Linked DNA regions of Homo sapiens. The protein of the gene in region 2 interacts with the protein of the main gene of each other region in a pairwise test. Each region holds a gene or a part of one and is shown on either strand. Other genes may lie near its edges.

Region 1 (3,650 bases), on a different chromosome or scaffold from region 2:
TTGTTGTCTTCTCTAGTTTCCTACGACCATCCTCCTTCACATCCTGAATCATTTCAAATCAAGGTTGACACTGTAACTAGGTACACAGTTTACTGTCTACATGATATGAACAGGAGCTTGCCAAGATCCTGATTTTCCCAAAATACCCTAGGTTATGCTTTCTTCCTATTTTATCTAAATCTCAAACTATTCAAAATTTTGTTATTGTTGGCTTTTGTTTCTGTTCTTGTTAAACAACAAAAGTAAGGACAGTATCCATTTGGGAGAGGATAGAGGTCTCCATCAGTATTTCTCATGTGATCATGAGTATTAGCTCAGATTGTCCAATGAAGAATGGGTAAATTTTATTTGGAGGGGAGAAGGACAGGGATCAAAGCAGCAGGCAGCTGCTGGTGGTTGAAGGGGCGGTGGGAGGGGAGGCAGATGGTCAGGCAGGGCAGACGTCAGACTGGAGGTCACAAGCAGAGGGTCATAGAGGTGTGTGCAGGGGTGTTGGAAGCTCATTGTCAGATTCCATTCATTTTACACTTTTGTTCTACCCACAATAGAACTCTACTACCCAATCCTTTTGGCAAAATCTTCTACTTGAAGAGAAAGGTAGATATGCTAAAGCGAGACTTAGATTTGTGTCAAACTCCACCAATTTCTAGCATAGGCAAGTTACTTGACCACTTTGGAACTCAGATTTCTCCTCTACTAAATGAAATTGTATTTAGTCATCTCTAAGTCCCTTCTTTGTTCTAAAATTTCTAGATCCCAAGCATTTTACAACCTTGATGGACTTTGTATCATAGAGCAAAAAACCCTGAGTTTATATTCACTTATTTTATTGTTTGCTTCAGATTGGGGCCGTTGTTGGTGGGGTCCTCCTTCTGGTGGTCGCAGTTGCTGGTGTGGTCCTGGCGAAAGGATCTTGGAATTCAGACATCACCCTTCTGACCATCAGTTTCATCTTTCCTTTGATTGGCCATGTCACGGGTTTTCTGCTGGCACTTTTTACCCACCAGTCTTGGCAAAGGTATAGTTAAACTATCCATAAACTTTTTTGAGGAAGGTAAATTTAACACACTGCCACTGGTAGGCTTTGCTGCCTGTGTCAGGAGACATGAAGAGTTTTGACTTACATAGTGGAATCGACAGGATAACTAAGCATAAAAGAGGGTCATTCATGGCAATTCATGGAAAATATTGTGGTAATTCTTTATGTAAATTAAAGCAAAGGCCAAATTGATAGGAAGAGATAAATTTAAGTTAAAAAAGAATAGAAAACGACATGATTTGATTCCCACTTCGTAGAAGAAAGCAAAAAGAATTCTATGCATCAAAATATACTGGAAGAAATACACCATATGGTAACAATGTTTAATTTTGAGTAGCGAAATTAAGGATAATTTTAGTTCTTTAGTATTTCCTTGGTATATTTTTGAAGCTTTTCAATAAGTATGTACTACTTTTAAAAGCAGAAAAAAATTACTAAAGAAGAGTAAACTATGCAGTTGAATTCCAAAGGTGAAAGTTGGGAATTTTTAATTGGCTTTATGCTACTTCTAATCCACTTGGGGAACATTTAGGGTTGTACTAAGCGCCCGGTAAAGCTTTACCCCATCTATCTCATTTACTTCTTACTACAAGCTTGAGAAGTAGATCCTATCACTACCCTCATTCTACTGATGAGCAGACCCTTCAGAGAAATTAAGTGACTTGACCAAGTTCATAGAGCTAGAAAATTGTGGAGTTAGGATTTGGACCTGGGTTTGTTTCCAAATTTAACAATTAGGAACACAGTCTGTTGAGTGGTTGAAATGCAATTGGCTCTGGACAGAAAGTACTCCTATGGCAAGATGTAGTCCACAATCCCATCTTTTTCATACCTGATAGCCTGACAAAGCCCAGGACTGAGATTTGGCTCATGAATGGTGCAGGTGTGAGTTCCAGCTTTGTAGCTTAATCATATCGAGTTTTTGACAAAAGTCTCAAAGAAGTGAGGGTGGTTTGAGACAAGTGTAGCAAGCAATAGAATAAGTAGAAATAACGTATGAACACAGAGCTTGCCCTGTACCATTGACAGCATTTTCACCCCCTCATTACACACCCTTGTTACTTCCCCATTCCAGTCCAGCTTGCACAGAGGTGCTTGTTTGTTTTCTGAAACACCTCTTTTATCTCCTCACTTCCACATATAAAACACTGCAGGCTCCCTTTATAAACTGGAGACGTGAAACTGCTTAACTCAGCCCTCAACATCCTGCCCAGGTCTTCCCTCTATTCCCTCCTTTGTCTTTTCAAATGAGGTTTACTTCATTTTATGCAACCAGAAAACCAATAAAGTATAGAAAAGTAGAAAGCAAAAAGAAAAATTATTACCAAACTCTTTCACCAAAGATAATCATTTTAGGAATTTGGTCTTTATTCAGGGTTTTTGTGTTTTTATTTATTTATTTATTTATTTATTTATTTATTTATTGAGACCTCGTTGCCCAGGCTGGAGTGCAACCTCTGCCTCCTGGATTCAAGTGATTCTCGTGCCTCAGCCTCCCGAGTAGCTGGGATTACAGGAGCGTGTGCCACCACGCCAGGCTAATTTTTGTATTTTTGGTAGGGACAGGGTTTCACCATGTTGGCCAGGCTGGTCTCGAACTCCTGACCTCAGGTGATCCACCCACCTTGGTCTCTCAAAGTGCTGAGATTACAGGCGTGAGCCACTGTGCCTGGCCTTGTTTATTTGTTTTTAAGTGTTGGTTAGTTTATATTGTTTCATATGTCTTTCAAAAATATATATACGTTTTTCTTTTTGTAGAGACAGGGTCTTACTCTGTTGCCCAGGGTGGTCTTGAATTCCTGGCTCAAGCAATCTTCCCGCTTCTGCCTCTCAGTGCTGGGATTCCAGGCATGAGCCACCATGTCCTGCATCATATCTCTAACTCAACTTTCCATTCTTGTCTCCTCCAGTCCTCTCCTCTCTGCAGATTGGCTTACAGTATATGCAATGCCTGCTGAACAGGCCACACTCACACCTCTCCCTGGAACTTTAATTTTTATAATATTTCCCCCTCATCAAAAGCTTCTTCTATTTTTTTCCATCCTTAAATCCCACTCCTCTGTGAAGCCTTCTCTCACCCCTTCTGCCATTTTCTAAATTTCTACATCTGCGTGGCCTTTGGCCATACTTTGTCTTGTGTTGTTGCTGAACCTCTCCTGTGTGTTTATCTTGTCTTTTTACTCAGATGCCTAGGGCAGGGTTTGCAAAGCCTCACTCCACCGTGCCTCTCAGAAGACCACCTGCAGAATAGGCACTCAGCAAATAACTATGGAATGAGTACACATTTTCAGTGGCCTGAGGTCATAGCTTCTAATTGTTATGATGCATATGAGAAAATATTAGAATAGTTCTTATTGCTAGTGCGTTACTCTTGAAACATTTTCTTTTTGGTAGGTGCAGGACAATTTCCTTAGAAACTGGAGCTCAGAATATTCAGATGTGCATCACCATGCTCCAGTTATCTTTCACTGCTGAGCACTTGGTCCAGATGTTGAGTTTCCCACTGGCCTATGGACTCTTCCAGCTGATAGATGGATTTCTTATTGTTGCAGGTGGGTGAACACCCATTGGGTAGGAAATAACTGACGGGAAATTGTTCACCCCAACTTAC
Region 2 (3,750 bases):
AAGACACTGTCTCAAAAAAAAAAAAAAAAAAAAAACCCCAAAAAAACAACTCATATGGTTTAGTAACAGACTGGGCACGAAAGGGCTATTTAAAAAACAGTTGCTCCTCTGGCGGAAAGGAATGCCTGGAGACTACTTATTTTATTTCTTACTGGGAGGACCAGGATCATCATCCTATTTTGCATAGAAGGTTCAGTTTGTTCTTTCCCTTAAAATAGGAAGATAAGGGCATTATCCCCCTAAGTCTCGTATGATATTCCCCATTCTGAGTCCAGAATACCTAGAAATTTGGAATTTGGCTATTGCCGTGTCTGGACTGTGAGTATGGGAAGGGGAAGCTTTTCTGTCTGTTGTCCCCACTACCGCCCCTCACATCCGTGATTCTGAACCCCATGATAAATGCCCTTTGAACCTTTTTCCTCCTTTTGATGCCGAATCCCCTTTTATGGGACTCCGCCAGCACGGGTGCATTTAACCTTCCTGAGCTTGCCCACCTGACGCATGCAGCCAAGAAGCTTTGAAAGATGGAGTGCCCTGGCTGAGGGTTCCAGGTCTCAGCAAGGCCACGAGGTGGTGACTGCCTCCCAGAACTCTGTTGGGCCACCCTCCGTCCTGGAGACCCCCAAAACCTCCATAGCACCAACTCTGCCCATTCACACACACAGTCAGCCCTCCCTCCCGAGTCCACCGCGGGCAGAGGGCCAGCCACCATGCCTCCCATAGCCGCCATCCCTGGGAAGGAGCCCTGACCCCGTCCTTACACCCCTCTACACTCACTGCCTGTGGGGAGAGCTGCTCGCTGTCACAAGCATCCAGGGGGCTGGGTCGAGGGGCCCCCTGCATGGTGGGGGACCATGTTGTCGTGCATGGAATGAAACTGGCCACACATAACAGATATGGTGGCGCTCTGGTCGGATCTAGGGGAGTCTGTCCTACAGGATGAGGCTTGAACTGTCCTGAGTGACCAGACACCCAGCCTCTGCTTCGAGTGCTCAGTTATGATTATTGTCCTGATTTAGTTAACTGTTCTTCAGGGGCTCCAGGAGGACGAGTGTGTATCCTCCCATTGCTCTGTGCAGCCTCTAACCTCTAGAGTCTAGGGGTCTGGGGAGAAGTTGGGAAGTCTGGCCAGTGGGGCCGGTGCCTGGTGACCTCGGGAGGTGGGATATCATCATCTTCAGAACTGTAGTTGTTACTGGGATACCAGCTCTGGGAGACCACAGGTGCAGTCAGCACAGCAGGACCTTAGACAAGGCACCCAGCCCCAGTTTCCCCACCTGGGAAGGGGGCTACTTGTGGCTAGAAGCAGCCCGGACTCCTGAGCAAGACTAGACCAAGAGGCCGGTATGTGGACACCCCCGCGTGGGCACCCCCACGGGGACACCCTGGCCACCGCCGCGCGGACACCCTCACGAGGACACCCCGGCCGCGCGGACACCTACCGCGGGGACGCCCCGACCCCATCCTACCTGCTGCGCCCCGCGCCGCGCCCCGCACCCCGCCCGCCACGGCCTGCGTCCGCCACCGGAAGCGCCCTCCTAATCCCCGCAGCGCCACCGCCATTGCCGCCATCGTCGTGGGGCTTCTGGGGCAGCTAGGGCTGCCCGCCGCGCTGCCTGCGCCGGACCGGGGCGGGTCCAGTCCCGGGCGGGCCGTCGCGGGAGAGGTGAGAGCGCTGGCTAGACCGGGGCCGAATGCGGCCGGATTCGGGGCGGGGGCCTTCAGACCTAGGGTGGAACACTGGGATAGGGTGTGGGGAATTCGGACCGCTGTGAAGTGATCTGACGTTGGGTGGGAGTCTCCGGACTTGGGGTGGGGAATCTGGATGGGAACTGGGGAATTCGGACCTTGGGTGGGGATCTTTGGACCGGGGTGGGGTCCCCAGACTCCTTGTGGAAAGCTGAGGTTGAAGATCTGTGCTGTGATGAGGGGCTCCAGATAGCGGTGAGAGATCCCGCTTCAAGACTGGGTTGGGGGTCCAGACCAGGAGGATAAGCCTCTCCCTGGAGTAGGGCTTGACCTGGTGAGGGTGTGGTAGAGTCACAGGGGAGGGTCCCACTTGGTCCTTGGGCTGGGATCAGACTCTCAGAGCTGGAGAGTTGCAGGAGGCCTGGGGGAGGGTCTGTGGAGCCCCAGACTCAGAGGGCCTTGGTGACTTCTCCAACAGGCTCCCTGTTGGAGGCCTTGGGGTACCCCAGGGCCTTTCCCTGCAAGAGAGAGGCTGCTCCACCAGGAAGGGGCCCAGGACTCCCCAGGGTCGGGGGGATGTGTGGTGTGCAGGACCACGTGGGAATGTTAGAGAAAGGGGAAGTCACTCCGGGCCTGCCCTGCTAACAGACCTGCTTTTTGGATTTTTCCAGCCAGGGATTTTTGTGTCCTGTTGCTTTTTATTGTTTAAAGTGACCCTCCAAGCCTGAGGGACCGTAGGAGCTGCCCTGCAGAGCCCAGTGAGACACTAGTTAATGCAGAAAAAACAGATTTTACTTGGTAACTACTGACAACATGAGAAAAAGCTGGCTCCATGCTGATTTGTCTAGATGTGCCTGGAGTTTAAAGGGAGAGTGAGGGAGTGGGAAGGGGTGGGGACTCAGTAGAGTTAGGGAAACAGAAAATCACCAAAACTGGGAAGGGAGGGTTGGCCCCTGTGAAACCAACTGATCTGGGTTTGCCACTGGGGCTTACCGAAGTCAGGCCCCCAACCTCCCACAGAGACTGGGAGACAGGGGCCCCATCCTCAGGTGTTGGCTGGAACACACAGGAAATTCTTGTGGCAGCCTTGAACTTCTCAGGCAGGCACTTTAGAGGGGGCTAGGATCGTTCTGGGAATGTGGCCTTGAGCTGTTAGGAGCTATGTTAGTGTTCGTTCCAGCCTAGATAGGCCAGGGTGAGGCCCAGTGGAGAAGGGGACTCTAAGGAGCCTGGCTGGAGTGTGGGGAGGGAGGGTCTTTGTCAGCACTCCCCCTGTGCAAGAAGAGCAGAGACCTGCTTCTTTCCTCTCAACAGTCCCCGTCCATTTTCTGTTCTGTGTTGTGTTCATAAACTACCAGCGGGACCATCTGTTGAGACTTGGTAGCAAAGGATTTTTGCTGGATGATGCAAGCAGTCAAGCATTTAATGAGGAAACAAAAATAACAGGCCAGGCACAGTGGCTCATGTCTGTAATCCCAGCACTTTTGGAGGCCGAGGAGGATCACTTGAGGCCAGGAGTTTGAAACAAGCCTGGGCAACATAAAGACCCCATCTCTACAAAAAATTTAAAAATTAGCCCGGCGTGGTGGCATGGGCCTATAGTTCCAGCTACTTGGGAGGCTGAGGTGAAAAGATCGTTTGAGCCTGGGAGGCGGAGGCTGCCATGAGCCATGATCTTGCCTCTATACTCCAGCCTGAGCAACAGAGAGCCCCTATCTTTAAAAAAAAAAAATAATAATAAAATAAAAAAATAAAAAGAAAGAAAGAAATAAAAACAAAGATGAATGGAGCTGTTGATAAACCCAGTTTTTGAGCCTACAGGGCAGCAGTTGAGGTTTCTGGCCGTTGGGCCCTAACAAGGCCAGCAGGGGCACTCAGGGACTTCCTGGTGTGTGGTGTGAAGTCTGTGATGATGGCATAGGCATTGGTATCCCAGTTGTGGTTACTTTCTGGAGAGAGCATGTGGCATGCAGGAGCTGGAGGGGGGGTCTTCCTGGGCGGCCTGTGTAGCAGCAGCTCCAGGCACAAAGGCTGCCCCTGGAGAATCTGTTGTGGTTCTGA
Region 3 (3,650 bases), on a different chromosome or scaffold from region 2:
CAAGGTGGCACGCATGCCGAGTCACCAGGTGAGACTGCCGCTTTGGGAAGGGATAGGAAGGATCTCCGGTAGCCTTCGTGGGCAGGATGCCTCTTATTTGAATGTGCCTTTAGCCACCTCACAGAGCCTATTTCCACATCCCTGTGGATTCATCCCTGTGGAAATCTTGAGAATCATTTATCCTATGCTGTCATGAAGCAGCAGCAGAATGGAGAAGGTTTAAAAAGACTCATGGACAGGCAAAGCGGTCAAACACCTCCTGGCTCAGACGCACTTGCCTTCCCACACACAAGTCTGGAAGCTCAGGATGGTGTTCACGGAGGCAGATGCTCGGGGCCGGGGCCTGAGTTTCCTGGGGCACAGCCTCCATATCTGGGGTTCCCTGGACTATGCCCAGATAGCTCATAATGTCCCAGCCTTATTTGTGATGGAGAAGGACTTGGGGAAAAGCCACCGGGAAGCAGTAAGTCTAACCAGGGAAGTGCACTGACTTGCATGCTTTGAAGAAGAGAAGGGAGAAAAGATACAAAACCCTCACCTGGTTTGTCTGTAACAGTTGTTATTTCTCAGGGGAGCTGCATTAATGGGCCAAGCCTGTGCAGCTGGGTGTGTGAAGCATGCATTTTGCAATGGACTGTCTCCAAAAGCAGAGCGAGGTCACCCAAGAAATCTAGAGCAAGGGAAAATACTCATTAGCAAAGGAATTTTGCTGGAGCCTTGTAACGGCCGACTCATTATTTCCTTTCCAAGTTATTTTAAATGAAATTTTAAAAAACATCTTGCTTTCCAAGAAATTTTGCTTGTTGGCATATGTTTGGTGTTTTGATTCAGTTTGGAGGATGAACTAGTTAATTTCCCTGGGAGTACATGCCTATTAAAAATATAGCATCCTGCATCTGACCAAGATGCTATCTTACTATCTTATTGTGCCTATCTTTTATGCGGAGAGAGAAAGGGGGGTGTTGGGAAGGAGACCAGACTGTGGAAACATTTTCTTTATTTTTTCTCTTTTTCTTCCTTTTATAGTTTGTTTATTTTTCAACTTGACATGGGTAGAGAAAGCGAATCGCTAGTATAGAAAGCACATCTGGAATCCATCCGGCCTCCTCTCTCTGGCTCACCCTCCTCCCAGCAATGTTTCTCCTTGGAAGTTGGGGGAAGGTAGGCACCTCTGACCTTGGCAGGGTCTAACTTGGGGTCATCCACTGCATACTCATCTTCCAGAAGGCGTCTTATTCCTCCTCGACAAAAAAAAAATGTGTTGGTATTAAAATGCTTTGAGGTAGGCTGGATGAACCCAGCTTAGTGAGGATGACATGAAAACCCTTAGCTAATGGGGTCTTTATTGAGTAGAACTCAGGTAAGTTCAGATGTAAGCAGTGTCTCTCAGTAAACATGAAAAGACTGAAGATGCAGACAATCAAATACTTAAGTCTCTTGAAGAGCTGGGTGGTGGGCGGGGGTCTTCCCAGGTGGTCAGGGAGATGTGTTAGTGTAGCACTTGGAAGAGAGTGGAACGACCAGGCAAGGATGTGCCGTGGAGGTGGGCAGTGGGAGCAGCCCAGTGTCAGCATCTGTATTGGTTAGAAGACCACCGCTAATGAGGAGGAGCGTCTCTACCCTGCAGCTGTCTGTACTCCTGTGTCTTCCGTAATGTGCCAAGCTCTCTGAATATATGCAAAACTAGTCTGCAAAAAGCCATATGTCTCAGCATCTGGCTTTATTTCTAAGTGTTCAGGTGGAATTTAAGCCGCGATCAAATTTACAATGTCACTGCCAGCTCTGGACACTTACTTTTGGAATAAAGCAAAGAGTGAACACTAATACTGCATCAGTCTTGCCCTCTGTTAGGGGCCGCCCCTTCTCCCCACACCAGTTTTGCAAGATGGGCTGGCTGGGGTCTGAGAAACCCAGTGCCTCCGAGTCATGGTTAAAGCCCATCTCAGACACCAACACACCGCTCACAAATCAACATCGACCTGCGAAAACATGGACATGTGTTCGCCAAGAGAACATCCTCAATCAATCCCAGCAGTGCTACTTGATGATAATCAACACATGGGCCATGGAAGAAATTACCCCATGTCCATAAACAAGAATGAATAGAGGGTAGTGTATCTACCCACACCATGAGAGCAAGAATATTCAGCATGCAGGTGCATCTATGTGCATGACTCGTACAAGCATCATGGGGAGAGGAAAGCAATGGACACAATTGTATCCTGTAGGGTTTCATTCACGTGAAGGTCAGAAGCAGGCTAAACTCACCTAGGGGAGAGTCCTATCCCAGGTAGTGGTCATGCTTGGGGACAGGTGGTGACTAGGAGGGGCACAAGGAAGGCTGCAGGGTCCGGCCCATCTTGTTGCTGGCCTGGGTGCTGGTCTCACTGATCTCTGTGTGGTGGGGCAGGTCAGCCTCCCAGGCCTGCTGGTGCCTGCAGTGCCCAGCACTCCTGCCGTGCCTGGCAGTGTTAGTACCAATCCGCCAGAGTGACTGACTCCCCTCTTGCCCTGAGTAGGGCTTGCTGACTCCAGGAGCCTCAGGGCGGGGTGGGCTTTGAGCTTTCTTCTAGCAAACTTGAGGTCTGTGGCTGGTACCCCTCAGGAGCGGAGGGGAACTCTTGTCCATGAGATGCTTTTAACCGTGCGCAATAATGTGTAGACGCATCCAAAATCAATCTGGCCTTTAGCCCAGCACTTAACTCTTGGGATGAGGCCTGCTTTGTAAATGTTGATAATCCAGAGAAAATGAGCTTTTAGATTCCAAAGACAGCCAGATATCTTCCACTTATGCAAAATGCAGAGAATCATATTTAACAAAAGATGTTCTGGACAAATATGCTTCTTGAGGGATGAATATTTAATTATAAGGGAAATGATAAATCAAACATTAATGGGAAAATATGTTTGCCCTCAAGATTCATGATTTTGATGGGTCTCTGGCAAATCTTATACTATGTTTATTGGGGTTATTTTATTGCTGGTTATTAGTTTTTAATTGTTTGCTTGTTTTCTGCTCTGATCAATTTTTGTATAAGCCGTGGGTCTATTCACCCTCTTCTCTCCATTCCCGGGAGCAAGTCCACATCTGGCTGTTGGATGCATGGCAAAAGCAAAGGTGTGGAGAAGGTTCAGAGGAGACAGGACATGTATAAAATGGTAGGGTCAGGTTGTCATGGGGGAAACTGAGGCACAGGAGGCAAGCTGAGTTAGTACAAGAACAGTCTGAATCATAACGACATGCCAGTATTACCTAAAAGGATGAGGAACATGGAGCTGTACTTGAATCCCTACGTGAGCTGGGGAAAAGGGGCCTCAGGAATCACTGACATTGGAACCAAGGTTTGTCTGCAGCTTGTCGGTTTCTGGGACAGAAACCCAACATACTGGAGTGGGTATCCCAGCAATCTGTAGGATAAACCAGGACACTGTGGTGTCATGGATAGCTGGCTGTCTGCCAGGTGATGGCCCCTCTGGTTGCAATGTGAGCCGGGCAGGTCATCCATTTGGCAGCATGGTGAGGGCTCTGGCCCCAGTTGCTATGGGAGGGAGGATGCTGGCACAGGGCACTGTTCACAGACTGCCTTTGCTCCATGCCTTTTCCATGAGCATGAGTGGCTGTTCGTGTGGGAAACGGCAGAGCCCTCGCG

Evidence for each region.
Region 1: the proteins of COMT (region 2) and SLC10A6 interact in binary tests that used the Homo sapiens proteins (3 or more experiments, as listed by UniProt).
Region 3: the proteins of COMT (region 2) and S1PR3 interact in binary tests that used the Homo sapiens proteins (3 or more experiments, as listed by UniProt).

Annotation. Positions count from the first base shown.
Region 1 is NC_000004.12:86,825,361-86,829,010, reverse strand, and holds part of SLC10A6 (sodium-dependent organic anion transporter), read left to right. Parts: intron 1-842; coding exon 843-1,018; intron 1,019-3,433; coding exon 3,434-3,591; intron 3,592-3,650. UniProt on the Homo sapiens protein: Transports sulfoconjugated steroid hormones from the extracellular compartment into the cytosol in a sodium-dependent manner without hydrolysis.
Region 2 is NC_000022.11:19,940,232-19,943,981, forward strand, and holds the start of COMT (catechol O-methyltransferase), read left to right. Parts: upstream 1-1,572; 5' UTR 1,573-1,666; intron 1,667-3,750. Other genes in the region: TXNRD2 (thioredoxin reductase 2, mitochondrial isoform 5 precursor), read right to left, coding at 1,470-1,572. UniProt on the Homo sapiens protein: Catalyzes the O-methylation, and thereby the inactivation, of catecholamine neurotransmitters and catechol hormones. Also shortens the biological half-lives of certain neuroactive drugs, like L-DOPA, alpha-methyl DOPA and isoproterenol.
Region 3 is NC_000009.12:88,994,319-88,997,968, forward strand, and holds part of S1PR3 (sphingosine 1-phosphate receptor 3), read left to right. Parts: exon of another isoform or gene 1-1,824; intron 1,825-3,650. UniProt on the Homo sapiens protein: Receptor for the lysosphingolipid sphingosine 1-phosphate (S1P). S1P is a bioactive lysophospholipid that elicits diverse physiological effect on most types of cells and tissues.